Regions from separate parts of the Homo sapiens genome. Here region 2 is linked to region 1. Evidence: fine-mapped expression QTL. A gene starts in region 1. The other region holds a variant in brackets. All regions are shown on one strand. Distances are between the middles of the regions. Region 1 holds the start of TCF25 (TCF25 ribosome quality control complex subunit). Region 2 overlaps TCF25 (TCF25 ribosome quality control complex subunit).

What was found. PIP is the estimated chance that this variant, and not a neighbour inherited with it, causes the effect.
Region 2: its variant is fine-mapped to the expression of TCF25 in whole blood (TOPMed, PIP 0.95).

What each region holds. Positions count from the first base shown.
Region 1 is chr16:89,867,167-89,881,783 of GRCh38, reverse strand. It overlaps TCF25 (TCF25 ribosome quality control complex subunit), which reads right to left and starts at 8,192. Exons shown (of 18, transcript NM_014972.3): 1 at 7,925-8,192. The coding sequence starts at 8,116. SPIRE2 (spire type actin nucleation factor 2) reads right to left here. Exons shown (of 15, transcript NM_032451.2): 13 at 13,568-13,595; 14 at 12,102-12,217; 15 at 10,465-11,734. The coding sequence ends at 11,512. LOC112268179 (a long non-coding RNA gene) reads left to right here and starts at 8,296. Exons shown (of 2, transcript XR_002957933.2): 1 at 8,296-8,816; 2 at 9,863-11,407. RefSeq lists enhancers at 1,610-2,279, 8,548-8,707, 8,478-9,434 and silencers at 7,408-7,877, 8,348-8,467.
Region 2 is chr16:89,890,988-89,905,604 of GRCh38, reverse strand. TCF25 (TCF25 ribosome quality control complex subunit) reads right to left here. Exons shown (of 18, transcript NM_014972.3): 6 at 13,330-13,412; 7 at 11,747-11,877; 8 at 10,468-10,567; 9 at 9,522-9,615; 10 at 6,956-7,048; 11 at 6,733-6,838; 12 at 4,811-4,970; 13 at 1,400-1,487; 14 at 509-667. Among named protein-coding and RNA genes, the nearest start is that of MC1R, 21 kb to the left of the region's middle. The variant T/C (reference allele first, on the strand shown) is at 7,559.

The DNA of each region.
Region 1 (14,617 bases):
GATTCCATTTCAAGAAAACAAAAAAAAAAGAGGCTAACAGATTGGGTGTGGTGGCTCATGCCTATAATCCCAGCGCTTTGGGAGGCTGAGGCAGGAGGATCATCTGAGCCCAGGAGCTTGAAACCAGCCTAGGCAATACAGTGAGACCCCATCTCTACAAAAAATTAGCAGGGTGTGGTGGCACACACCTCTTGAGTCCCAGCTACTCAGGCGGCTGAGGAGGACTGCGTGAGCCCAGCAGTCCTGGAATCTGGAACCTGGAGTGAGCCATGATCACACAACGGCACTCCAGCGTGGGCAACAGAGCAAGACTCTAGCTCTAAATTTTTTAAAAAAAAAGCTAACAGAGACCAGCATCAACAATTCTTTATGAACTAGGAGATTCTGATGGATCCAATCGGATGCACTAAGGTTCAAAAATAAATAAAACTGCCTGTTTAATTTAAAACATCTTGAAAACCACAAACCTCAGAAAACACAATCAGCTCCAAGCCCCATAGCCCTGAGATAGTTTCTGAAACAGAATTGAGACTCGGCTGCACCTGGGAAGACAGACACCCCGGCTGCGGTTGCTGAAGAGAAGAAAGCACAGGGCAGGTCTGTGCTTGCCGGTCAGTCGGCTTTCTCTCCAATGGAGGCTCCCACATGACAAGGATACGATTCAGGAGCATCTTAAACGCCCGCTGAGACAAGTCAGGAGCAACTTACGCCCGTTGAGAAAATCCATGGCAGTATAGACGTGTTATGTAAACAGAGCCCCTAACTTGAAAACACTGACACTCCACCAAAACGAGGTTTGTCCCATCCCAGCAGCACCATGATGGTGATTCTCATGGTGATGCCTCCTTCTGCCTGGCCTTTGCTGGCGAAGCTGGGGCCTAGGCATGGGCCGGCTGCCTTGCACCCTGCAGTAAAGGAAGAAAGCTGAAACAAAGCCTATTGTTGAAATGTTTCTAACCTGTGGGTGGTCACTGGTAAATTGGATCTACACCATCTCCAACATTCAACTAATGATGATGTCTCTTAGTGAAGCTGGGTGCTGGTTTACTTGTCTGTTTTTAGAGATAGGGTCTCACTGTGTTGCCCAGGCTGGCCTCAAATTCCTGTGGTCAAGGGATCCTCCTGCCTCAGCCTCCCCAGGAGCTGGGACTACAGGCACACGCCACAACACCCAATTTACTTTTTTTTTTTTCTTTTTTTGAGATGGAGTCTTGCTCTGTTGCCCAGGCTGGAGAGCAATCGCATGATCTTGGCTCACTGCAACCTCCGCCTCCCGGATTCAAGTGATTCTCCTGCCTCAGCCTCCCGAGTAACTGGGACTACAGGCATGTGCCGCCATGCCAGGCTAATTTTTGTATTTTTAGTACAGATGGGGTTTCATCATGTTGGCCAGGCTGGTCTCGAACTCCTGACCTCAGGTGATCTGCCCGCCTCAGACTCCCAAAGTGCTGGGATTACAGGCGTGAGCCACCGCGCCCGGCCAACACCCAATTTACTTTTATTAACTCATGCTGACTTCCTAAGAAAAAAAATTCTTATTTTGAGGTGTTTGACAAATCGAATTCATAAAAAGCTCTATGCCAAGCTGAACTTCAATGGAAAGGAGCCTGTGTACACGGACAGCACGCGTGATGGGCTCAGGAGCCTGCCTGTGTACACAGACAGCACACATGATAGGCCCGGGAGCCTGTCTGTGTACATGGACAACACGTGTGACAGGCTCTGAAGCCCATCTGTGTACACGGACAGCACGTGTGATGGGCTCAGGAGCCTGCCTGTGTACATGGACAGCACGCGTGATAGTCCTGGGATCCTGACTGTTTACAAAGACAGCACACATGATAGGCCCAGGAGCCTGTCTGTGTACACGGACAACACGTGTGACAGGCTCCGAAGCCCATCTGTGCACACGGACAACACGTGTGACAGGCCCCGAAGCCCATCTGTGCACACGGACAACACGTGTGACAGGCCCCGAAGCCCATCTGTGCACACGGACAACACGTGTGACAGGCCCCGAAGCCCATCTGTGCACACGGACAACACGTGTGACAGGCCCCGAAGCCCATCTGTGCACACGGACAACACGTGTGACAGGCCCCGAAGCCCATCTGTGCACACGGACAACACGTGTGACAGGCCCCGAAGCCCATCTGTGCACACGGACAACACGTGTGACAGGCCCCGAAGCCCATCTGTGCACACGGACAACACGTGTGACAGGCCCCGAAGCCCATCTGTGCACACGGACAACACGTGTGACAGGCCCCGAAGCCCATCTGTGCACACGGACAACACGTGTGACAGGCCCCGAAGCCCATCTGTGTACACGGACAACACGTGTGACAGGCCCCGAAGCCCATCTGTGTACACGGACAACACGTGTGACAGGCTCCGAAGCCCATCTGTGTACACGGACAGCACGTGTGACAGGCCCAGGAGCCCGTCTGTGTACACGAACAGCACGTGTGACAGGCTCTGAAGCCCGTCTGTGTACACGGACAACACGTGTGACAGGCCCCGAAGCCCATCTGTGCACACGGACAACACGTGTGACAGGCCCCGAAGCCCATCTGTGTACACGGACAGCACGGGTGATAGGCCCAGGAGCCCGTCTGTGTACACGAACAGCACGTATGACAGGCCCCGAAGCCCATCTGTGTACACGGACAACACGTGTGACAGGCTCTGAAGCCCATCTGTGTACACAGACAGCACGGGTGACAGGCCTAGTTTTGCTTCTTCAGTGAAGTTTTGGTGATGACACATGATTTGCTGCAATCTCTACTGCCATGCATCAGCTCTAAAATGCTGTCAATCACCGTCAGACAAACCTTATTACTGGCTGGGCGCGGTGGCTCACGCCTGTAATCCCAGCACTTTGGGAGGCAGAGGTGGGCAGATGGCGAGGTCAGGAGATCAAGACCATCCTCGCTAACACGGTGAAACCCCGTCTCTACTAAAAATACAAAAAAACTTGCCGGGCGTGGTGGTGGGCGCCTGTAGTCCCAGCTACTCAGGAGGCTGAGGCTGGACAATGGAGTGAATCCAGGAGGCAGAGCTTGCAGTGAGCTGAGATGGTGCCACTGCACTCCAGCCTGGGCGACAGCGCAAGACTCCGTCTCAAAAAACAAAACAAAACACCTTATTACCTACCCAAAAGCTGTGATTTTCATTAGTTTTAGGGTCTCAAATGGGGAACATTTCACAAGGTTCTTGTCCACGACTGATCTTCTTTAGGATAAAGCTCGATCAGCATTTCAGTTAATAACCAGGAAGGAGTTTTATCTTTTTTTAGGGGGAGAGGAAAATGTCCATTTTTCCTAAAAAAAAAAAAAAAAAAAAAAAATGGTGATTTTTAATAGAGACGGAGTTTCACCATGTCGGCCAGGCTGGTCTCGAACTCCTGACCTCAGGTGGTCCACCCGCCTTGGCCTCCCACAGTGCTGGGATTACCGGCATGAGCCACCGCACCCAGCCTGAGGTTGTCTTTTTTTTTTTTTTGAGACAGGGTCTCACTTTGTCACCCAGGCTGGAGTACGGTGGCGTCATCTCACCTCACTGCAGCCTCGACCTCCTGGGTTCAAGCCATCCTCCCGTCTCAGCCTCCCGAGTAGCTGTGACCACAGGTGAGTGCCACTATACTTGGACAGTTTTTTTGTATTGTTTGTAGAGATGGGGTTTTGCCACATTGCCCAGGCTGGTCTCACACACCTGAGCTCAAGTGATGGATCTGCCTTGACCTCCCAAAGTGATGGGATTACAGGTGTCAGCCACCAACCCTAGCCTGGAATGTTTTATACTTTAAAAAATTCAGTATCTTTAATAGATAAAAGGGCTCAGATTTTTTTATTTCTTCACATGTCAATTTAGATAAGTTTTATCTTTAAAGGAACTTGCCCATTTGTCTAATCTGGAAAATTTATTAGCAAGAAGTTCCTTATCGCCCGTTACTATCTGCACCATCTGTACCTGTGAACACTCCTCTCCCATCCCTGAAAATGGTAACGTACCTGGACCTTCCCTTTTTCCCTCCATCAGTCAATCTAGAGTTTTTGCCAACTCGTCTTTTGAGAGAACCAAGTTTCGGTCTCACCGATTCTCTCCATCGTGTCCATACTCTATTCTGTGCATTCCCCTCTTTGATTAGTTTCTTCCTTCGACACATTTTGAGTTTAATTTGCTCTTTTTCTAGTTTAAGGTAGAAGTTTCAGGTAAATTTCTAGATTTTTAAACACTTTTCTAATTTAAAATTTACGATGATAAAGTTCTAATCATCGTTTCAGTTGCATCCCACAAATTTTGATAGGTTGCTATTTTCATTACCAATCAGTTCAGAAAAGATTCTAGGCCAGGCATGGTAGCTCACATCTATAATCCCAGCACACTGGCTTTCAAAAAAAATTGAAAAAATTAGCCAGGTGTGGTGACACCCACTTATAGTTCCACCTACTTGGGAGGCTGAGGTGGGAGGATGGTTTGAGCCCAGGAGTTCAAGATTACAGTGAGTTATAATTGTGACATTGAACTCCAGCCTGGGCAATAGAGCGAGACTCTGTCTCCAAAAAACCAAAACACACACACACCCACACACAGCAAAAACTGACAGGGTTGAAAGTAGAAATAGACAAATCCATAATTATTATTACGATTTATTTATTTATTTATTTATTTATTTTTTTGAGACAGAGTCTCGCTGTATTGCCCGGGCTGGAGCCTGGTGGCACAATCTCAGTTCATTGCAACCTCCACCTCCTGGGTTCAAGCAATTCTCCTGCCTCAGCCTCCCAAGTAGCTGGGATTACAGGCACCCACCACCATGCCTGGCCAATTTTTTTTTTTTTTTTTTTTTTTTTAGATGGAGTCTCGCTCTGTTGCCCAGGCTGGAGTGCAGTGGCACGATCTCAGCTCACTGCAAGCTCCGCCTCCTGGGTTCACGCCATTCTCCTGCCTCAGCCTCCTGAGTAGCTGGGACTATAGGCTCCCGCCGCCACACCCGGCTAATTTTTTTGTACTTCTTTAGTAGAGGCGGGGTTTCACCGTGTTAGCCAGGATGGTCTGGATCTCCTGACCTCATGATCCGCCCACGTCGGCCTCCCAAAGTGCTGGGAATACAGGCATGTGCCACCACGCCTGGCCCAATTTTTGTATTCTTAGTAGAGATGGGGTTTCACCATGTTGGCCAGGCTGCTCTCGAACTCCTGACCTCAGGTGATCTGCCCACCTCCCAAAGTACTGGGAGCTGCAATTCCAGCACTTTGGGAGGCCAAGGCGGAAGGATCTCTTGAGCCCAGGAGTTTAAGACCAACCTAGGCAACATAAAGAGATCTTGTCTCTAAATAAATAAAATTTTTTAAAAAGAGAAACACCATGTCTCTCACCAATGCATTCACATTCATAACCATTTAGTCGTAACTGGCTGTTTACTGTCTCCCATACTTCTGTTTATTAAGAGCTATTTAACAGAATGCCAATAAACATTTTGATTATATTATTTCCAAATATGAGTTTTAAGAGCAAAAAAGTATGGAATGCTTAAATTAAGACTGATGTGTGCCACTGGATAAAATTCTCTGAAATTCCTAAGAACACAGCACGATAAGCAGTCATTCATCCATGGAGGCTGTTAGTGTTACTGACACTCAAACTCACTCCAGAAAGTCCACAAGGGTTTGTGTGGTTTCTGACCTTACAGACTCTTACTCTGTCAACTCATGAACCACACTTTTTCCAAATTCCCACCAACACAAATATAAATACCAAAAAGATTAAATATTTAAATGGGAAAAAAAAAGCATTAAAAGAACAAGCTGAGCATGGTAGGGTATGCTGTAGTCCCAGCTGCTCAGGAGGCTGAGGCAGGAGGATAACCTGAACCCAGGAGTTCAAGACCAGCAACCAGCCTGGGCAACACCGTGAGACCCTGTCTGTAACCAAAAAAAAAAAAAAAAAAAAAAAAAAAAGCCAGGCGCAGTGGCTCACGCCTGTAATCCCAGCACTTTGGGAGGCCGAGGCAGGCGGATCACGAGGTCAGGAGATCGAGACCATCCTGGCTAACATGGTGAAACCCCATCTCTACTAAAAATACAAAAAATTAGCCAGGCGTGGTGGCGGGCGCCTGTGTTCCCAGCTACTTGGGAGGCTGAGGCAGGAGAATGGCGTGAACCCAGGAGGCGGAGCTTGCAGTGAGCCGAGATCATGCCACTGCACTCCAGCCTGGGCGACAGAGCGAGACTCCATCTCAAAAAAAAAAAAAAAAAAAAAAAAAAACTCACGTCAGGGAATATCTATGTGAAGACACTCTAGAGAGATGGATGTGTAACAATGAGAAAAGTGGCTCCAGTATCTTTCAGCACGCAGAAATTAAAGAAGTTAAAGAACAAACACAAACCGAGAAAATACGTTAGAGACAATCGATAGCAAGCTTCCACGAGCAAAAAGACTGTCCAAACCCCCTATAAAAAGGCAAAGATATAAACAGGTTGTCACAAAGAGAAATATAAATGGTCAACGAATACATAGCTAGGTGCTGCATTTCACTACCAAAGAAGTGTAAAATAAAATAATGTGATATCATTTTTCACAAATTACATTGACAAAAATTTAAAAAGACTTACGGGGCCAAGCACAGTGGCTCATGCCTCTAATGCCAACACTCTGAGAGGCCAAGGTGAGAGGACTATTTGAGCCCAGGAGTTCAAGGTTGCAGTGAGCTAGGATTGTGCCAATGCACTCCAGCCTGGGCAACAGAGCAAGATTCCATCTCAAAACAAAAAGCTTTCAGTAACTGCTGTGAATCTAGCAAATTACTGAACCTTGACGGGGGTCTTGGGGACCACTAAAGGTGGACTTGATGCGAGAAGGGCAGTCAACCAAGCATGGTGACTCACGCCTGTAGTCCCAGCACTTTGTGAGGCTGAGGTGGACAGATTGTTTGAGCGCAGAAGTTCTAGACCAGCCTGGGCAACAAGGCGAAAACTCTTCTCTACAAAAAAGAAAAAAAAAAAAAATTAGCCGGGCGTGGTGACATCCACCTGTAGTCCTAGATACTCAGGAGGCTGAGGTGGGAGGATCGCAGAGCCCGCAGAGGCAGAGTTACAGACGGAGGCCAGGGCTTAGGAGAAAACGTCACAGGACCGCATGAGCAAACCATACAGTCAAACTGTTACTTCCCTGTGCCAGAAACGAGCTGCCGGAGATGCAGCAAAGAGTAAGACTAATCCGCTGGGTTAGGCTGATGGGGATGCGCGAAGAGCAAGGCCCTGGGTTAGGCAGAGTTGTTGTGAGGATTAAAGCAGAATGCTCGCAGAGGCCTGGCAAGTCCTCAACCCTGGAACCGAGAGAAGGCCCCTCTAGACTCGAGAAAGGGAAGCCCCACCCGACTCCTGCCCCTACGCCGTGGCCCCACCCCCACGGTGGCCCCAGGCCTCATTTAACCCCGCCCACGCCATCGCCTCGCCACCCCCCCGTCTTTAGCCACGCCCTTTAGCGTCACGGCCCCACGACAGCCACGTGGCCGCAGGCCCATTTAATCCCGCCCACGTCGTGGCCCGGCCCCGCGGACGTTGGCCACGCCCTTGGCATCAAGGCCCCGCACCCTCCACAACCCGGACCCCGCTTAACCCCGCCCATTCGGTCGCCCCGCCCCGACAGCACGGCCCCGCCCCATCCCTTAGCCCCGCCCACCTCACCGGGGTTAGAACCCAGTCTAACTCCGCGGCCCGCCGTCTTCACCCCACGCCACCGCCCACCCGCGTCGCCCTGGCCCCGACGCACGGCCCCGCCCTCCCCACTGCGGCTGGGACCCACGTCACCCTTCCCACCCCTGGCATCACAACCCCGCTCCCCGACCCGGCTGGACGCTCGCCCCGCCCCACAACGTCAAGGGCCACCCCACCCCCACCCGGGCCGCCGCGCTCCTCACCAGCTCGAAGCGGTTGTTGACTCGGACGCCCTCCTTCCCTGCGCCCCCGGGACGCCGGACACCAAGCTCCCGCTTGGGCCCTTCTTCTTCCGCGTCATCGTCATCACGGAGATCGAAATGCAAGGCGCCGGGCCCGAGGGGCTCCTGGCCGCGCTGTTCCCCCCTCAGCCTCCGGAGGGCCCGGCGCGACATAGGACCGAACGACCACGACGTCTGGAGAGAGGGAGAAGGAAGCGCAGAAAACTCGGCTGTCGGCGCGCCTGCGCACTCTTCGCGCGGGGTCGGGGGCGGGGGAGCTGGCTGCGCGCCTGCGCACTCTTGGCGCGAGGGGTGGGGGCAGGACCTGGCTGCGGCGCCTGCGCGTCGCGGCTCTCCGGAACTTTCCCGCTTCAGCGGCGGCGTCTGGGCGGGCTCCGGGGGGTCCGGGCCAGGTCTCTGGAGAGCTGGGTGTCTGCGCGCCGTGCGCACCGGGCATGGAGAGGTGCCCCGCGGGGATGACGGGCTTCGATTCGGGGTAACGGGCGCGCAGCCGGCGACAGTCGGCCCTGCCCGGCCTTGCCCATCCATGTGGCCCGGAACCCGCAGCCGCGTTCTGCCCGCCGGGGCCTGTCCCCGCACCGTGCCTGCAGCATTTCAGCTGCGTCCCGGACGTTGCTAGTTGGTCCTTTTCGTGTCAGGGTGTCATTCGAGTGATCTAGCCGTCGATGCCCGCCTCTGCCCTGGAGCCGCCGCCCCTCGAGCAGCATTGAGTGACGCGGCCCTTACTGCCCGCCCGAGGCCTCTTTAGGGACAGTGGTTCTGACAGTTCTAGGACAGGCCGCCCGCGTTTGTCACGATCTAAGGGCCGGGCGCGGTGCTCACGCTTGTAATCCCAGCACTTTGGGAGGCCAAGGTGGGCGAATCACCTGAGGTCGGGAATTCGAGACCAGGTTGGGCAACACGGTGAAACTCCCTCTACTAAAAATACAAAAATTAGCTGGGCGTGGCTGCGCACGCCTGTAATCCCAGCTACTCGGGAGGCTGAGGCTGCAGTGAGCCGAGATCGCGCCACTGCACTCCAGCCTGGGCGACAGAGCCAGACCCTGTCTCAAAAAAATGAAAAAAATAAAGTAGATGAGGCTGAGACAGTGCTGGGTTCAGTGGGCGGAGGGCACAGCTTCCTGTGCCTGGGGTTGGGGACATGGGGACAGGAGGGCATAGAGAAGACAGGTGCCAGCAGCCTCCTGCCCGACTTACTGCGGCTTCATGAGCACAAGCAGCAGCCCTGGTGAGCCGGCCTGGCCCCTCCCAGGATGGGTTAGGGTTTTATTTTATTTTGTGAGATGAGGTCTTGCTCTGTTGCCCAGGCTGGAGTGCAGTGGCGCAATCTCGGCTCACTGCAACCTCCATCTCCCAGGCTCAAGCACTTCTCCTGTCTCAGCCTCCCGAGTAGCTGGGACTACAGGCATGTGCCACCATGCCCGGCTAATTTTTGTACTCAGTAGAGATGGGGTTTCACCATGTTGGCCAGGCTGGTCTCGAACTCCTGACCTCAAGTGATCTGCCCACCTCACCCTCCAAAAGTGCTGGGATTACAGGTGTGAGCCACTGCACCTGCCGTGGTTTAGGGTTTTAACGTGGGCTTTCATTTCCAAGTGTTCCTGTATGAATTACAACCCAGTCTCCCCATGATAGGGAGTGTGAGTCCCCGTAGAACCAGAACAACCGTCGTCCTTACCAAGCACTACACATTAGCTTATTGCTGGCTGTGTGACCGGAGGAGTTCCCTGACCCTCTCTGTGCCTGTTTTCTTATTTTTAAACAGGAATAAAAATACAGGCCAGAGAGTCCGTGAAATGCTTACACGCATGCTAGAAGCTGGCTGTTTTTACTGGGGGCTCTAATTTTGTGTGTTTGGATTTCCTGGACCCCAGCTGACAGGAGTATTTTCTCCCGCAGGCCCATCAGTTACAAGTCCTGTCCCTTCTGACCTCCAGGCCCCACGGCTAGCATTACAGCCTGGAGTCAAAGTTCTGGGTGAGCTGTGTATCTTTGGCCAAATTCTTTGACCTCGTTGAGCCTCAGTTCCCTCATCTGTAAGGTAAGATGACGGCAGAACGTCACGGAGGAGCAGGGCAGGGCCCCGTTAACAGGCTGAGCCGGGCGCAGGTGAGCAGACAGCACTCGGCACAGGGCCTGTCTAGAGCCTGCAGTCACACCTCCTGCCCCTGTGGATCCTCTCCCTGGAGAACGAGAATACGGATCTGGGAAATGAGACCAAAGTACCCCCCAGGCCAGCAGGTGTGGCCAGAGGAGCTGATGGGCAGTAGTCTGTGCCGTCCGCATGCAGCCCTGACCATGGTGGCCAGGACCACGAAGCTGGTAGAGGCAGCCAGGGCTGCGTGGACAGAGCAGGCCTGGAGCCCTTGCCTGGTGGGCACCTGACTCTAAGCCAGGAGGCCTTTCCTCGTCCTGGAAGGCAGGTGGCCCCTCAAGCCCAGCTTCAACCTTGGGAGAACATGCCATGCTGGGTGAATCCTCAGCGCACATCCCAGACAGAAGACTGTGAGACCTCCTTTATTAGGCCAAGAGTGGCCATGTGCACAGATTTACAGAGCTGCTCCTCCCTGTGCCAGGACCGCCCAGCATCTTCAGGAGCCTCTGGGCCAGGGGCGAGTGAGGACAGCACCAGAATGTGGTAGGGCCAGGAGAGGCAGGACACATGTGGTTTGGACCCCAGGGAAAGGGAAAGGGCAAGGGCAGGGAGCAGCTTGGCACGGACCTTTTTTTTTTTCGAGACAGAGTCTCGCTCTGTCGCCCAGGCTGGAGTGCAGTGGTGCAATCTCGGCTCACTGCAACCTACACCTCCCGGGTTCAAGCGATTCTCCTGCCTCAGCCTCCCCTGTAGCTGGGATTACAGGTTCCTGCCACTATACCTGGCTAATTTTTGCATTTTCAGTAGAGACAACATTTCATCATGTTGGCCAGGCTGGTCTCAAACTCCTGACCTCAGGTGATCCTCCCTCCTCGGCCTCCCAAAGTGCTGGAATTACAGGCCTGAACCACCACGCCTGGCCAGACCTTTCAAACAGGTGGGGGTGCCTCCCAGGAGGACCCTGCCTACTCAGAGACTTCCCAGATGCCTCTGCTGCCTGAGTCCCCACAAAGGGAGAGCAGAGGCAAGCAGGGCACTCTGGTCCAGCTGGGAGCCAAGATACCCTGTCCCCACCTAGACGTCCACTGGGGAAGGGAAACTGCCGTTCGCATTCCTGGGGACGGAGAAGAGCATGGGAACATGGGATGCAGTCTGTGCCAGGATCTAGAACCTTCTGCTTTCTCTCTTCAGTGAGAAAACCCACCCTGTTCCCTCCCCTTCCTCCCTGGCAAGGAATCCTGAGAAGAAACAGCCTCCCCCAGGGAGGGTTTTGAAGTGCGCCTGAACCCAAATGAGCTCTGGGGCCAGGAAACAGTGTATATAAATATATAGACTGTGTGTATATATTATAAATGTATCTATATATGTATATATGTACATGCACAGCTCAGAGCGTCCTAGCCTGATACAGGGCCTGCCTGGTGCCTCCTGGAGGCCTGGCCACCTGGGGCTGTCACTTGAAGTCAAGAGTCCTGGTGTTAGGGATGTAGAGGGATTGGGTCTGGCGACTGCGTCGTGGCGTAGTGTTGAGGACGTCCACGCTCTTGCGGCTGGAACGCACCACGTCTGCCACAAAGCTGGTGCACTCACTGCAGACATCCTTCAGGACACAGCCGTGGGAGTAGATGTGGGGGAACGCCTCCTCCACGCTCTGCCACTGTGGCCCTTGCAGAGACCTGGGAAGTGGGAGAGGGCACTCAGGGAGAGGAGCCAGCCAGGGTGCCACACCCCCCTCCCTGCTTGTGCATGCCACAGCCCCCTCCTGGCTGCCTTTCACCCTAGGCCTCCCCTTGGCCCTCAGGCAACAAACACAGCTAGCAGTGTTCATCTCAGCAGACTGTTCCCTGACCACCCAAGTCCAGTTTCCATCTCATACTGCTCAGCCTCCCAGAGCCCTACACAACGATCCGTCTCTGCCTTGCATTTCCATTTCCTTGGGGTGTCCTAGCAAACAGACAAAGCCAGCCCCCTCCACCCCAGCTCCCAAGTTCCTCTTCACGCCCGACCACCACAGTGACATCAGCAGCAAGGCGAAGAACGCACTGAAAGATGTCTCTTCTCTGGATTGGCGCGGTTTTGGCAGCTGATACCCTCTGAGGACTCTCAAAGCCCAGTGTGTAGACAGGGATGTGTCCAAATTTCTTAGAAGGCATCTTCATCTGCAGCACAGAGGGAGGAGGTATGAACCAGGCACCACCAGAGACATTCAGGTACACTCAGTGCTAGGGGACCTCCCTCCCCAGTCTGGGACCTGCGTGGCAGCCAGGGCTTCCTGGAGAATATTCTCTGTCCCTGTGCTCTCCGATGTCTCCTCTGTGCCTTTTGGCTGAAGACTGGCACGGGGTTCCTGCTTGCTGCACATCTGGACAGGGGCTTCTTAGAGCGCAAGAACCGTCCCTTTTTATACCATGCGGGACCTGCCACGTTTCCTGCTCATCTGGACAGGGGCTCCTTAGAGGGCAAGAACTTTCCCTTTTTATACTATACGGGACCTGCCACCTTACCCTGCACATAATCAACATTTAACATGGATGAGGTGGAAGTTTTTCCATTGCCAAGTGGCAGGATGTAGAGTAAGATTTAAAAATAGTGGTAGTAAGAGTACTCCTTAAGCAGAGTTTTGCTTCTGAACTGAGGCCTGAGGGGTAACATATATATATATATATATATATTTTTTTTTTTTTTTTTTTTTTTAAGACACAGATCTTGCTCTATTGCCCAGGCTGGAGTACAGAGGCACAGCCATACTCACTGCAGCCTTGAATTTGCTGGGCTCAAGAGATCCTCCCACCTCAGCCTCCCAAAGTGCAGGAACTGCAGGCATGAGCCACCGCGCCTGGCTGGTGACATACTTTTATTTGTATTTTGTCTTTTTGAGACGGAGTCTCTGTCACCCAGGCTGTAGTGCAGTGGCACAATCATAGCTCACTGTGGCCTCCACCTCCCGGGTTCAAGTAATTCTCATGCCTCAGCCTCCTGAGTAGCTAGGATTACAGGTGCGTGCCACCATGCCCAGCTAATTTTTTTGTATTTTTAGTAGAGATGGGGTTTCACCATGTTGGCCAGGCTGGTCTCAAGTGGTCCGCCAGCCTCACTGGCCTCCCAAAATGCTGGGATTACAGGTGTGAGCCACCGTGCCCAGCTGACATACTTTTAAATGTTAGGATCCCTTTACCTCTGTGCACCTGCACATAAGCACACACCTCAACTGCAATAAGAAGCCCCTCCTAAAACACCCAAAAAGTTATAGAATGTAAGAAGGTAGGACTTTTAGAGGGGAAGTGAAGGGTTTTTTGGCACGAGGCTACTAACGTGCAATGTTTAAAAACAAAAACCTGTAAGGGTCTTTAAAAACTGCACACTATCTTGGAAAGTATAGGAATGGATTCTGCCTGAAAGGAAATGGATGAGGTGCCTGGTGAGGCAGCATCATCCAACACATCCAATCAAAGCCAGTGGAGCCCCTCATCTGCCTTGCTCAGACCCCAGAGATCCCACATGGTCCTCACCTTTATGCTACAGGAAGTGCAGACGGCTCTGGAAGGGAACAGAGGAAATGCAGCATCAGCAGGGAGGAAGCCCACAAACAGCTGAGAAACAGTCGCATCCCGGCCTCCACGCATCCGAGGTCAAACCATCCTTGCCTTCTGCCTGATGCTTGGTTACTTCAGTACTTTATTTTACTCCAAAATCTTGCTTTTCTTTATACTTAGGTATCCACCCAAAATATATGTGCTCCTTGGCATTCTCTCAGGAAGGATGGCTCCAGGAGTTTTCTCCTGCCAAGTTTTCTATTGCCAAGTGGTAGGATATAGAGTAAGGTTTAAACATAGTGGTGGTGGGCCAGATGTGGTAGCTTACGCCTGTAATCCCAGCACTTTGGGAGGCCAAGGCAAGTGGATCACCTGAGGTCAGGGGTTTGAGACAAGCCTGACCAACAAGGTGAAACCTCGTTTCTACTAAAAATACAAAAATGAGTTGGGCGTGGCAGCAGGCACCTGTAATCACAGCTACTTGGGGGGCTGAGATAGGAGAATGGCATGAACCTGGGAAGTGGAGGTTGCAGTGAGCTGAGATCACGCCACTGCACTCCAGCCTGGGGGACTGAGCGAAACTCTGTCTCAAAAAAAAAAAAAAATGGTGGTAAAAGTCCCTCTTAAGCAGATTTTTGTTTCTGAACCAAGGCATGATGGGTCTTTCTGAACCAAGCCATGATGGGTCACATACTTTTGGAAAGTTTAAAAACAAAAACCTACAAGGGTCTTTAAAAACTGCACACTGTCGGCCAGGCGCGATGCCTCACGCCTGTAATCCCAGCACTTTGGGAGGCCAAGGCAGGTGGATCACGAGGTCAGGTGTTCAACATCGGCCTGGCCAAGATGGTGAAACCCCGTCTCTACTAAAAATACAAAAAATTAGCCGGGCATGGTGGCGGGCACCTGTAATCCCAGCTACTCGGGAGGCTGAGGCAGAGAATTGCTTGAACCCAGGAGGCGGAAGTTGCAGTGAGCCGAGATCATGGCACTGCACCGCAGCCTGGGTGACAGAGAGAGACTCTG
Region 2 (14,617 bases), 24 kb before region 1:
CTGGCCACACCACTGCACAGAGCCACGGTGCTGATGCACAGAACTAGCACAGGGCCAAGGGCGCAGACAAACGAGACAAGAACAGCAAGGGGATGCCTGTCAGTTGCAGCATATTAGGGCATGAGCCTCCGAAGTGTTCACACACAGGACAGGAGACTCTTTCTCGTCTCTGCCAGATTTCTTTACTCCCAAGATGCTGCTGTGAGAGACTCGTCATCATCTCACAGCTCATGTGGAAACACTGCAAGACCCGAAGGCACCACTCCAGCCCGAGGCACCCGGGAACAGCAGCTCGGTACCCTGCGCTGATCACCACAGCTGCCTCCCAGGAAGCCTCTGGGACACGCCAGGGGCTGTGCGCTGTCTTGTAGGCTCCACACAGGCCCCACAGCAAGGGAGGCCAAGCTGCTCACAGCCCTTCTCGCCTCCCGAATGCGAGGCCCCCGTGTCTGGGATGAGGGTCCCTGAGGAGGGGGCGTGGCAGGGCTTGTGTCAACCCCTAGCTCACCGGTTCTCACAGGCTTCCACGGCTGGGTCCCCGGCGTCCACTGCTTGCAGAACCTCGTGGACGTTCTCCTCCAGCCAGCTCATGGTGGCGGGCTCTTTCCAGAGAAAGTGTGACCTCCCAAGGTACAGGTTCACCAGCTGGCTCAGGGCAGGGGGCTGGCTGGGGGAGAGCAAGGGCTCTGAGCAGAACCCCTCTTCAGACCACAGCCTGCCTCGAGGCTGGCAGAGCCCCATGGATGGGCAGACGGGGGGTCCAGGGAGTGCCCTGTGGCCTGGAGTGAAAGGAGGCCCCTGGGCTGCTGGCCTGAGGGCGTGGGGCTGGGGCACACAGGTATGTGCCGTGAGCCTGTTGGGCAGGTTATGTTCTTTAGGAAGCAGGACTGACGTCACAGAAATGTGAAAATGCACCCAGGGCGGGTCCATCTGCGTGCACACAGGGCGAGCCCTGGAGGGCCAGGGGATGACCCCAAGGCGTGCACTTTCTCCTGTGTTTGCTCCCTCTTTGTTTATTTTGTTTTTTGAGACGGGGTCTCACCATCACCCAGGCTGGAGTGCAGCAGCACAAACACAGCTCACTGTACCTTTGACCTCCCAGGCACAAGCCGGCCTCCCAAAAAGCTGAGATTACAGGCATGTGCCGCCACGCCTGGCACCCTCTTTATATGAGCCTCGTTTTTAAGCTGGAGGCTGCTCAGCTGTCCCACCTGGACTTTTCCACACAGATGAGGGCTCCAGAGCCGTCCCATGTCAAATGACAGTCCCCGAGGCCGCCACCACAGCCCCTCCTGCTGCTGGAAGCAGGTCCCTCAGGGCCTCTCAGGATGAGTGAAAATGGCTCCCAGGCTCCGAACCCACAGGCACCCACAGATGGGCACCACCAGCCACTCTTTACCTTATTTCAGCATTGGGTCCAAAGAAGCGGTGACTGGAAACGCTGGCGTCGGGCCGCACACTGCAAGACTCGAGCAGGGGCAGGAGGACTGCAGGGGAAGCGGAGGCTCTGTGGGGGCCCTCAGCACACACCCCAGCCACTCCTAGCCCCCAAGGCAGTAAGGGACACAGCGAGGTCCTTGTCACAGACACAGCTGTTCTAAGGTGGAGAGTCTGCAGGGCCAGCGGCTTGCTTCCGGGTGGTATTCTGAGTTGCTGCTGCTGGCGTGCCCAGGGTCTGAGGCTGGGGGTCTCCTTCACACCAGCCCCAAGGAGGCTGCCAGGGCCCCCATTTGCATCCAAGGGAAGACTCACCCACCACCCTCCACACACATGGGGTTGGGTTTTTTTTTGTTTTTCTGAGACAGGGTCTCACTCTGTTGCTCAGGCTGGAGTGCGTTGGCGAAATCTCGGCTCACTGCAACCTCCACCTCCCAGGCTCAAGCGATTCTCCTGCCTCAGCCTCCCGAGTAGCTGGGATCACAGGCGCACACTACCACGCCCCGGTTAATTTTTGTATGTTTAGTAGAGACAGGGTTTCACCATGCTGGCCAGGCTGGTCTTGAACTCTTGACCTCAGGTGATCCACCTGCCTCAGCCTCCGAAAGTGCTGGGATTACAGGCGTCCGCCACCACACCCGGCTAATTTTTATATTTTTGGTAGAGAAAGGGTTTCACCGTGTTGACCAGGCTGGTCTCGAACTCCTATGCTCAAGCGATCCTCCTGCCTCGGCCTCCCAAAGTGCTGGGATTACAGGCGTGAGCCACCGTGCCCGGCCGGTTGGATGTTTTAATCACAAAGACTGGACCCCATGGCAGGCTGGTGGGAGCGGAGGCCACCTGTGCCCAGTGGAAGAGCCAGCACTGCAGGTTGAGGGCAGAGGCCGCCATGTAGGGGAACGGGCCCCGAGGGCAGAGCCTGCAGTGATCTCCAGTGTTCTGGGGTAAGTGGCAGCGGCTTCTTGGCAGCCCACCTGCCTTCAAGGGAGGTGCTGACGCTACAGCCTGTGACACAGCAGCACAGCTCTGCCACAAAGGACAGGGCCTCCCAGCCGCGTTTCCAGACACGGCTGCACTGGTGGAGCATATGGCCAGCTGCATGCAGCCCCAGAGGAGGACAAAGGTGCTTCTTAGACACAGGGGACGAAACTTTTGGGGTCAGCGAGCAGACTGAGGCCTGGCCAGGCCCCTCTGGGGGGCACGTTTCTGCCTGTGCTAGAAGCTGCCCAACCCCACGCCGTGGGCCTCCTCGGGGCCCAGACAGAGCCCTGGAAACCCACAGAACCGAGAAAGGGATGCTGCTTCCAGGACATCCTAATAGGCGATGAGTGGTCACGTAATGTGTGTATACTAGCTGCACGCAAATAACCCTCACCCCTCACCGCCCCTCGGAGGAGGCCCGTCTTAAGGAGGGATTTCACCCTCACCCCTCACAGCCCCTCGGAGGAGGCCCGTCTTTTTTTTTTTTTCTTTTTTTTTGAGACGGAGTCTCGCTATGTTGCCCAGGCTGGAGTGCAGTGGCGCGATCTCGGCTCACTGCAAGCTCTGCCTCCTGGGTTCATGCCATTCTCCTGCCTCAGCCTCCCAAGTAGCTGGGACTACAGGTGCCGGCCAACACGCCCGGCTAATTTTTTGTATTTTTAGTAGAGACGTGGTTTCACCGTGTTAGTCAGGATGGTCTCGATCTCCTGACCTCGTGATCCGCCCACCTCGGCCTCCCAAAGTGCTAGGATTACAGGCGTGAGCCACCGCGCCCGGCCGGAGGCCCGTCTTAAGGAGGGATTTCACCCTCACCCCTCACAGCCCCTCGGAGGAGGCCCATCTTAAGGAGGGATTTCACCCTCACCCCTCACAGCCCCTCGGAGGAGGCCCGTCTTAAGGAGGGATTTCACCCTCACCCCTCACAGCCCCTCGGAGGAGGCCCGTCTTTTTTTTTTTTTTCTTTTTTTTTGAGACGGAGTCTCACTATGTTGCCCAGGCTGGAGTGCAGTGGCGCGATCTCGGCTCACTGCAAGCTCTGCCTCCTGGGTTCATGCCATTCTCCTGCCTCAGCCTCCCAAGTAGCTGGGACTACAGGTGCCCGCCAACACGCCCGGCTAATTTTTTGTATTTTTAGTAGAGACGTGGTTTCACCGTGTTAGTCAGGATGGTCTCGATCTCCTGACCTCGTGATCCGCCCACCTCGGCCTCCCAAAGTGCTAGGATTACAGGCGTGAGCCACCGCGCCCGGCCGGAGGCCCGTCTTAAGGAGGGATTTCACCCTCACCCCTCACAGCCCCTCGGAGGAGGCCCATCTTAAGGAGGGATTTCACCCTCACCCCTCACAGCCCCTCGGAGGAGGCCCGTCTTAAGGAGGGATTTCACCCTCACCCCTCACAGCCCCTCGGAGGAGGCCCGTCTTTTTTTTTTTTTTCTTTTTTTTTGAGACGGAGTCTCACTATGTTGCCCAGGCTGGAGTGCAGTGGCGCGATCTCGGCTCACTGCAAGCTCTGCCTCCTGGGTTCATGCCATTCTCCTGCCTCAGCCTCCCAAGTAGCTGGGACTACAGGTGCCCGCCAACACGCCCGGCTAATTTTTTGTATTTTTAGTAGAGACGTGGTTTCACCGTGTTAGTCAGGATGGTCTCGATCTCCTGACCTCGTGATCCGCCCACCTCGGCCTCCCAAAGTGCTAGGATTACAGGCGTGAGCCACCGCGCCCGGCCGGAGGCCCGTCTTAAGGAGGGATTTCACCCTCACCCCTCACAGCCCCTCAGAGGAGGCTCGTCTTAAGGAGGGATTTCACCCTCACCCCTCACAGCTCCTCGGAGGAGGCCCATCTTAAAGAGGGATTTCACACATGCTGTCAGGCAGGGTCAGCCCCGAGGTCTGACCAGGTGGCAGCCTCACTGTGCCCGCCACATGTGCGTGGATCGAAGCTACCCAGATGCAGTCAGGGGTCACGGCTGTGCAGGCTGAGTCCATCTGGGCGGCACAGGCCTCCATTCTGCATCCCAGCATGGTGCAGAGCACAACCCTCTCGGCCACACCTCGGCGCTGCCGAGACCTTCCCCTGCTTTGCTCTCCTCCCCAGCACTGGTACAATCCAATGCCCCGCACCTCCCAGCCAGTTCTGTCTCTGCACTCTAGAACACAGGCCCCACGGGGGTCGGGATGCCTGCCACCTCCTCGTGCCTGGCTTGGCACGCAGCGGGTTCCGAGATGAGCCGACCCTCTTTCAGGTTTGGTAGGGCAGGTTTGCAGGCCCTACCAGAGAATGCATGTTTCTACAAGTGTGGGGAAGGACTGGGACCTGGCCTCCACCACCAGGAAGAGCAGCCCCCACGGCTGACAGGACACACCCCTACCCCAGGCGAGACACAGCGCTCACTCACCTCCAGGGAACATGGTGAGCGCCTGCTGTATCAGGAGAGAGGCCTTCTGCCTGGCAGAGCTCTGCTCACACTCAGGGAGGTCTGTCTGCTGGCTCAGCAGGAAATACGCCAGTGGAACAGAGAAGGCAAAATTAGGGAGCTGGGACAGGTTCCGATGAGCCTACGAGGGACGAAGAAACAGAGCGTGGAGCCTTAAGTCATAAAGACAAAATATGTGAGTTTGCAGACGCTCTGACATCACCAGTGAGCCCTACCCCGAGCAGGTATATTCTGCAGGCAACGCAAGGGCCTCTTCCTAACTCAGCATAAAGATAACTTAAAACGTCCACCTGGGGGGCTTTCCGCATGCAGAAGATACAGAGGACGTGGGAGGGCCTGAGAAGTAGACTGAGCCGGAGCGAGGACACCGTGGGGAGTGAGGGTCCCACCTGCCGCCCAGGCTCCTCTCTGAAGCTGAGCAGTTGGTGCTCTCAATGTGGAAAATTTACAGACGAGAGCAGCCCACCCCCGCGCGAGTCTGTGAGAGCAGCCCACTGCCGCGCGAGTTTCCGAGAGCAGCCCGCCACGCGAGTTTCCGAGCAGTCTACCACCGTGCCAGTTTCTCTTGCCTTTCTCAGCCTATGTCACATATTGTAGACATGTGACTCACTGCATTTTTTTCTATCAAAATGGGATCACAGACTCACAGTTTTGTGACCTTAAACACCATCATCAACATTCTTCTGCAGCCCCATTTTGGGGGACTCCCTGAGGTTTCCCTGCACCTACATTTTTGTGAGCTCCAGGAATTTCTATAAACCACATTCCTGGGGGTGAGACTTCCTGGCCAACTATGCCAAATGCTTAAAAATTCAAAATAATTTACCCACTTTCATTATCCATGAACATGTGCTATGAAAAAAATTCAACACAGAAGCAGAGAAAGTCAAGAGCTGTCGCCTTCTCCCCAGCCCCAGGCCCTGCTGGAGGTTAGCGTTACAAAGCCCGTGTCCTTCCAGATAAGTGCTGCCCCATAGGAACATAATGGGAGCCCAGGTGTCAATTTAAATTTTCTTTTTTTTTTTTTGAGACGGAGTTTCACTCTGGTTGCCCAGACTGGAGTGCAATGGCGCGATCTCGGCTCACCGCAACCTCCACCTCCCAGGTTCAAGCGATTCTCCTGCCTCAGCCTCCCGAGTAGCTGGGATTACAGGCATGCACCACCACGCCCAGCTAATTTTGTATTTTTAGTAGAGACAGGGTTTCTCCATGTTGAGGCTGGTATCAAACTCCTGACCTCAGGTGATCCGCCCGCCTCGGCCTCCCAAAGTGCTGGGATTACAGGCGTGAGCCACCATGCCCGGCCCAATTTAAATTTTCTGGGAGCTGCATTAAAGACAAAACAGGTGAGATTAATACGTTATATCTAACCCAATACACCGAAATTATCATTCCAACACGTGTCTGTGTTAGAGTTACTGGGGACAGAGCTCAAGTCTCTCCTGCTGTACTCACACTCTTCCCATGGAACAGGACAGACGTGCTGGGGGTCCCTGTGTCAGCCCCACGCAACCAACCCTCCTTCTACCTCCCGGCTGCATCTTCCTGAACTGCCCATGAGGAGCTCGGGAGTTGTCGGTTTTTCATCATTACCAGCATCACAGTCCTTGCAGGCACACGTGTGCATGTGTACACACGTTTGAGCATGTGTACACACGTATGAGGATTCTGACATAAGGCTGCTGTACTGTCCCTAGGAAAACCACATTCCACTCCGTAGAGGCGGCAAGGGAGACAAACAAGGCAGGAGGACGTGGTTCTGCCCTCAGACGATTATCGTTTCATCCCCAAACGTCCCCTGAGCGCACAGATACTGAACCAAGAAAACAGAAGGAGAAGCAGGTGTCCGTCCCTCCACGGGGCCTCACCAGGCTCGCACCCACCTCCCACTCCTGGAAGAGGCGGATCAGGTACTCGTAGTTCCGGGCCCGCAAGGCCAGGTGGTCGATGAGCAGCAGCATGCAGAGGGGGTCCTCATCCGGCTCGAGACTTCCGGAGGCAGCACAGAGAGCAGAGCAAAGGGGAACAGGGGCATCGTCAGGCTGAGAGTGGGCCTGCAGCCAGGACAGGGAGCGTGGACGGGCTTGGCCCTGAGCAGACACTCACCTCAGGATGAGCTTGCAGTACTCCAGCGCCGTGCGCGGGCAGCCTCGCTTCTCCAGGAAGCTCATCTGCTTGTAGAGGGCCAGGTAGAAGCTCCTAGATCCAAAATAGTTCCACATGAATTACAACGACACAAAGGAGAATGCTCTCTGCTCAGCGCCCCGGCCAGCACCCACTCCACCCCGCCCTCTGCTCAGCGTCCTGGCCAGTACCACCCATTCCACCCCACACACTGCTCAGCGCCCCAGTCAACACCCGCTCCACCCCACACACTGCTCAGCGCCCCAGTCAACACCCGCTCCACCCCACACACTGCTCAGCGCCCCAGTCAGCACCCGCTCCACCCCACACACTGCTTAGCGCCCCGGTCAGCACCCGCTCCACCCCCATTCTGCTCTCTGGGTTCTGCTGGCATTTTCTACGTGCCCAGCACACAGAGATCCATGTCTGGAGAGGAGGTGTGCGCTCTCCTTGTCCTTTACAGAGTTATACACGAATTTGCATACTGAAAATCAAACTTCTTTGAAATCTTTTTTTTTTTTTTGAGACGGAGTCTCGCTCTGTCACCCAGGCTGGAGTGCAGTGGCGCTATCTCGGCTCGGCTCA[T/C]TGCAAGCTCCGCCTCCTGGGTTCATGCCATTCTCCTGCCTCAGCCTCTCCAAGTAGCTGAGACTACAGGCACCCGCCACCACACCCAGCTGATTTTTTGTATTTTTAGTAGAGACGGGGTTTCACCGTGGTCTCGATCTCCTGATCTTGTGATCCACCTGCCTCGGTCTCCCAAAGTGCTGAGATTACAAGCGTGAGCCACCACGCCCCGCTGAAATCTTTATCTTGTTTTTTTGTTTATTATTTATCATTTACAGGAAGAGAGTTAAAATCTCTTGTTACAATTACGATCTTAATTTATCCTCCAATCTCAACAGTGGCTAACAGCACTCAGGCTGGATACATGGAGCCCTGTGACTTTCGGATGCTGGTGGGCTGCTACTTCCATCAACAGCCCACTGTCTCTTTCGCGTCGGGAAATATTAATATTTTATAATCTACTTCAAAGAACTAAGAATTTCATTGGAAGAGACAAAACTAACATAAAGAAAACCAGTGGAGGAAATTCAGACCCAGCACACAGTGCAGACAATCTGTGCAGAACGGGTCAGCGGACCTTGGCTTGCCAGGAGGGCTGAGAGGGTAGGAGCGGATCCCACACTGCAGACAACCCAGGGCGGCCAGAGAAACAGGGCACTGCACACAGGAGAGGCAGGACAGCGGACAGAAGCTGGTCTGCTCCACAAAGGGCCCACAGGACAGGCTGCGGGAAGGCCTGGCGGAAGCCAGTCTAGGTCTGACCAGCGAGGCCTGATGCCAGAGGGATGGCTTTAGGGGCAGAAGTATCTGAAAGAAGAGAGACCTCCACATGCGGTCGCTCAGCACAGGGGAGCGAGGGTCAGGCTGACTCTGAGCTCCTCACTGATTTAAGGTCAAACCTGCAAAGCCTTCCAAAGCTTCTAAACTTGCCAGGGATGGGTTTTCTCAGCCAAACATAGAAGGAAATGCAATTGCAGAGCCCACTGTGGAGATCTGGTTTCTCAGGCTCACTTCTTCTTCTTCTTCTTTTTTTTTTTTTGAGAGACAAGGTCTCACTCTGCTGCCCAGGCTGGAGTGCACTGGTACCATCTCAGCTCACTGCAGCCTCGACCTCCTGGGCTCACTTGAGTGATACTCTCGCCTCAACCTCCCAAGTAGCTGGGACCACAGGCACGCGCCACCAGGCGCAGCTAGTTTTTAAAATGTTCTGTAGTGGCCGGGCGCGGTGGCTCACGCCTGTAATCCCAGCATTTTGGAAGGCCGAGGCGGGTGGATCGCAAGGTCAGGAGATGGAGACCATCCTGGCCAACACAGTGAAACCTCGTCTCTACTAGAAAATACAAAAAATTAGCCAGGCGTTGTGGCACGTGCCTGTAGGCCCAGCTACTCGGGAGCCTGAGGCAGGAGAATGGCTTGAACCCGGGAGGTGGAGCTTGCAGTGAGCCGAGATCGCGCCCCTGCACTCCGGCCTGGGTGACAGAGTGAGACTCCGTCTCAAAAAAAAAAAAAAAAAAAAAATGCTGTTTTGAGACTGCATGTTGCCACGGTGCTCAGACTGGTCTTGACACCTGGGCTCAAGCAACCCTCCCACCTCGGCCTCCCAAAGTGCTGGGATTACAGGCGTGAACCACTGTGCCCAGCCAGGCTCACTTCTAACACAAACATTTATTTTTATTTTTATTTTTTTAAGAGATGGGGGTCTCACTATGGTGCCCAGGCTGGACTTGAACTCCTGGGCTCAGCAGACCTCCCACTCTGACCTCCACAGTAGCATCAGGCATGTCCACAGACAAAGGTAAACCTGGGCTGAGACAATCCCATCCCTCTATCCTTAAGCCCAGAGAGAGGAAGGTGGGTCACTCTGGACCTGTGGGCCCTGGTCCACCCTGGAGGGCAGCCATGAGGTGCCCACTGCACCTCCCCCAGCCTCACTCGCAGGAGAAGGGAAGGGGAGCTGCGTCACCTCCAGGGCAGCTGCACTCACCTGTTCTCGGGTCTGCGGTAATCCAGCCGGCAGGCCCCACTGGTGAGACTGAACAGGGGGTGGAACGCACATTCCATGCTGTACAGCGCTCTCTCTGTGGGCACAGGGACGCCAGGGGAGGGTGTCATGGCCACACACAGCAACCACGGCCCCTCCTCTGATAATGGACAACAAGGAAAGGTCTGGACGGAAGGTCACGAAACTAGAGTCCTGGACACTGAGAGGGCAGACATGCCCCTGGGCACCCTGGATGCCACGCTGCATTTATTTCAACCACAGAACTTGTGAGCTTGACATGGTAACACTTTCAACACCATGAGGCACAACTGCTGCCACGTCCTGACAGAACCAGGCGTCCATGTGTGCAGCACAGATGTGTCCACCTAAGACTGCGTGTGCATGCTGACGTAAGCACTATTATTTACAACAGCCCACACGGCCGTCAACTAATGATGGATACACAACATGTGGTCCGTCCACACAGTGGAGTATTACTAAGCCATAAAAACGAACGACGTTCTGATCGACGCTACAGTGAGGATGAACCTTGAAAACTTCATTGTAAATAAAAGCCAGAGGGCGGGGCGTGGTGGCTCATGCCTGTAATCCCAGCACTTTGGGAGGCTGAGGTGGGTGGATCACAAGGTCAGGAGATCGAGACCATCCTGGCCAACACGGTGAAACCCCATCTCTACTAAAAATACAAAAAATTAGCCAGGTCTGGTGGCGGGCGCCTGTAGTCCCAGCTACTCGGGAGGCTGTGGCATATATTAAACACCAACAAACAAAAACTTTAAATGGGTAAGTTTTGTGCTACGTAGGTTGTATCTCAATAAAGCTGTCATGGATATCCTGGCAACCCCTGTCATCTTACACCATCGCATCTGTCTTGATAGCTTGAGGTGCTCCCACAGCTGAGGGGAATGGGGTGGGGGCTCTGCCTTACCTACGAGGTCTCGAGCCATCTCCTGATCCTCTTGAAAGCGGCAGGCATCGCTGAGCTGCAGGAGTGAGTCAACGTGGTAAGGGCTCGTCTGGAGCAGAACCTACCAGAAGGGAGGACAGCCCTGGAGGAAAGGCACTCAGCAAGGCCCCAGCTCCCAGGCATGCCTTTTTTTCAGACATTTAAAACCAGCGGAGGCTGGGCGCAGTGGCTCACGCCTGTAATCCCACCACTTTGGGAGGCTGAGGCAGGAGGATCACTTGATATCAGGAGTTCAAGACCAGCCTGGCCAACGTGGCAAAACCTGGTCTCTAATAAAAATACAAAAATTAGCCGGGTGTGGTGGCGTGTGCCTGTAATTCCAGTTACTCGGAAGGCTGAGGCAGGCGAATCGCTTGAACCCGGGCCGAGACTGCGCCAATGCACTCTAGCTTAGGCGACAGAGTGAGATTCCGACTCCAAAAACAAAAACAAAAACGGGGGAATTACCGGGTCGACACTCACAACGTCCCCCCAACTCAAAATAGGCTAGTTATTATTGCTAAGCTGAACCAATTATATGACTTAAAGCAAGAACTCAGAACCTGACATGCCCAGGCCAGGGGCCACCTAACTCCCCACTAAGCCCCAAGAAAGAGGAATGGAAAGCAGCAGCCTGCTTTTCCCACAGGGAGATGACGGGGAGCTCTGCGGAGGCTGTCCGGGGTTGCAAGGGGAGCTGTCCGGCGGCTGCGTGAGGGCCGCCCGGGGGCTGTCTGGGGCTGCGCGGGGGCCGTCCGGGGCTGCAAGGGGAGCTGTCCAGGGGCTGCATGAGGGCTGTCCAGGGTTGCACCGGGGCTGTACGGGGACTGTCCAGGTCCGGGGCTGTCTGGGGCTGCGCGGGGGCCGTCCGGGGCCGTGTGGGGGCCGTCCGGGGGCTGCACGGGGGCCGGGAATCTGAGCTGCTCGCCTGCACTGAGCCGCAGGAGGCAAGGGCAGCAGTGAGAAGCCCCAGAGTCCTGGGCCTGCATCACACGGCACTACTGCGACGGTCCCCAGGAACGGCTGAGAGAGCAGCGCTCCAGCCTCTCCTCTGAGTATGGATGGAGCTCGCTTGGCCTAGAGCCTCCGAACACATCTCCTTCTGGTCACAGGGCCAGACCGCCCTGCAGAGACTGGCACCCTTCCTGTTGGGAAGGGCAGGAGGCAGCATGCCTCCCCCAGCCACCAGGGAAGCAGGCGGCCCAGGGCAGTGGTGGCTACATGGCCCCTGCTCCTGTCAGGGGCTGCAGGGACCACGCACCACGATGTTGTTCGGCTCCATAGACTCCACGGCCACCAGGAACTTGTGCTGAGCCTGCTGGTACTCCTCACTGTGCTCAAACGCAAAGAAGGAGAGGCCTTTTTTTGATTCCAGCAGCCGCATGGACAGACCTGGGAGGGGAGAGTGCTCAGGGAGGGTGTGCCGGGAGCAGGGACGTGGGCAGCTCCGAGCACAGCCCTCACCTTCGTGGTGTTCTGGATGAGGCCTCTGCGATATCGACAAACTTGACCTGAGTGTGTACTCATGGGTGTCACCAGCTCCGGACACCTTCCCAAAACACCCGCCGTCTGGTCTACACCAGGAGACGGCATCCCGTCTGCTTTAGTTTCCTATCAAGACGTGTTTGCCTCCAGAACTCGGATACAGCTCTAGCCCCACTGGCCTGGAGGGAATGTCAGGGACAAGGACACACACAGTCCACAGATCGCCAGATCTGACCACGCCGAGCACTGTCCCCAGACCACGTCTGATTGAGGAGAATGTCCGGGGTGGCTGTGGAAGGACAGGGTTGGAGTGCGGTGGCACAGGTGGCCACAGCGCCAGGCCTCTGAAGCCACAGAGCTTTGTAACGTGTGACCACCCTCTCACTTGGCTCCTCTTGTCTGACTGGGTGTATGGGACCCAGTTTCTTCTGATAAACCTGGAAAGCTCAGCCTCCCAGGACCTCCATGGACTAGGTCCCCTGTAGTGATACCTTCTTGATGGCCCTGCCCAAGGCCCCAGTCCTGCAGGAATACATGGCCATGGAACCCCTGTCTGCAGTGAGCAGGGGTTCCTGCCAGGAAGGGAAGGGGCCGTGAGCAGCGGGGTTCACCTTCTGACAGCACAGGCCTCGCTCCTAGATGTGTCCTTACAGAATGTATGCAGGCAATCTCCGGCACCCCCACAGACACAGGCGCAGGAGAAGCGGCCGTGGGAGCCATGGCAGCGCTGACAGCAGCAGCCATGCCGATCACCAAGGGCACCACACAGCTCCCTTCCCACAAGCTGTCCTTGCCCTGGCCCCTGAGGGCCCCCACAGTTCAGCCACTGCAGAGTGGAGGCCAGTGTGGAAGGCCTCCTGACACTTCCCCACACCACACAACCAAGCACCCAACACTCCATGCCTGTCTTCACTGTTGCAATTCATCTTAAAATCACTTATTAGTTTGCAATAATATACAAAATATTGCAGTTTAAAATGAACTCGATTGCTTCCATAAGGGAAAGGTCGATGGCAGAATGGTAGGAAGAACCTGCGTTAAAAGACAGTCACACAAAGACTGTGCCTGGGAGGCTCCGTGTTGAGGTACTGGGCCAGGCCTCCAGCACTCAGGCCCTCAGTGTGGCAACAAACAGTCACACACTGCACACTCCTGGAGCGCTCCTGGAGCAAAGAGTCTCGGCTCAAGAGGCACTGACGCCCCTGGTGCCCAGCGCAGGCCAGTGCACAGAACACACCCCCCCGCCGCCCTCCACCCCCAGCAGCCTCTGCAGACCCTCACCTGGTTTGCTGTACCGGGGCCAGTGCACAGACAACGCCCCCCAACCCTCCATCCCCAGCAGCATCTGCAGACCCTCACCTGGTTTGCTGTAGCGGGGCCAGGTGCTTTTAGGGGTGGTCAGCCATGTGCACTTGGGGTACACACGTTGTCTCTGCCGTGGCCTGGGGAGAACGGGACACAGGTACAGCTTTACTTCCTGTGGCGTGTGGGGACCAAGGCTTGGCTGCCTGATCCCTGCACGGGCTGTGGAAGCAAAACTGAGGGGCAGAGAAGGCATGTGGGGCAGGGTGGGGACGCATTAAGGACAGGATGCAAACAAGCGTCAGCAACTGCTGTGGGACGGGTGCAGCAGGGAGGGCCCCATAGAGAGAAAGAAACAATTCTGGCTGGGCACGGGGGCTCACACCTGTAATCCCAGCACTTTGAGAGGCCAAGATGGGAGAATTTCTTGAACCCAGGAGTTCGAGACTGGCCTGGGCAAGACAGCAAAACCCCATTTCTACAAAGGGTTTTAAAAATTAGCCTGGCGTGATGGCCTGCACCTGTGATCCCAGCACTCCAGCCTGGACGACAGAGCAAGGCCCTGTCTCAAGAGGAAAATAAAAAAAGAAAACGAAAAGAAAGAGAACAACGTACTAATATCCACATGCCCATCACTCAACTTAAGAAACCAACCATCTCTGAGGTAACAGCAGCTCCATGCCTTTTCCATGCTGCCCCACCTGCCCAGCTCAGATACCAGCTGACCAGTGCTTAGAGTGGGCCTGACCCCTGTGGCAGAGACCCCCAAATAACAGAGGTCAGGGCACTCTGCCTGAGCACACAGGCACCAGACAGGTGGGGCGTGGCAGCCGCGGCAGCACAGACAGCAGCAGCCATGCCCACGGTCACCATCAGCACGGTGCAGCTCCCTTCCCACGGGGCCATCCCTGCCCTGGCCCCGGGCTCCCCACAGTTCAGCCACCGCAGAGTGGAGGCCAGTGTGGTGGGCCCTCCTGACATGAAGGTGGCCCCAGCCTGCTTCTCCTGCCTGTAGCACACGCCCAGGCCTAGGAGAGTCAGCCCTTCAGCACTCTCCTGGGCCAGATGTACAGAATCCCAGGGATGGCCTGACCTGCGGTGAGCTATCCCACAAAACAAGTAAGGAAGCCTCCAGAACAGACCCAACGAGGCAGCCTGGGCAGATGCCAGGAGGGGGCAGGGGACAGGAGCCTGGAGGAGCTCTGAAGGCTGGCAGGCGCCCTGAGCAATGGGAGGAGTGTGCTGAAGTGCGGGGGCGATGAGCTGACCGGGCTGTCGTAGTAGGAAGTCAAGGACCCAAGAGAAAGCAGTGCCTGTTATTCTGAGCTTCTGAGAGAACCACCAG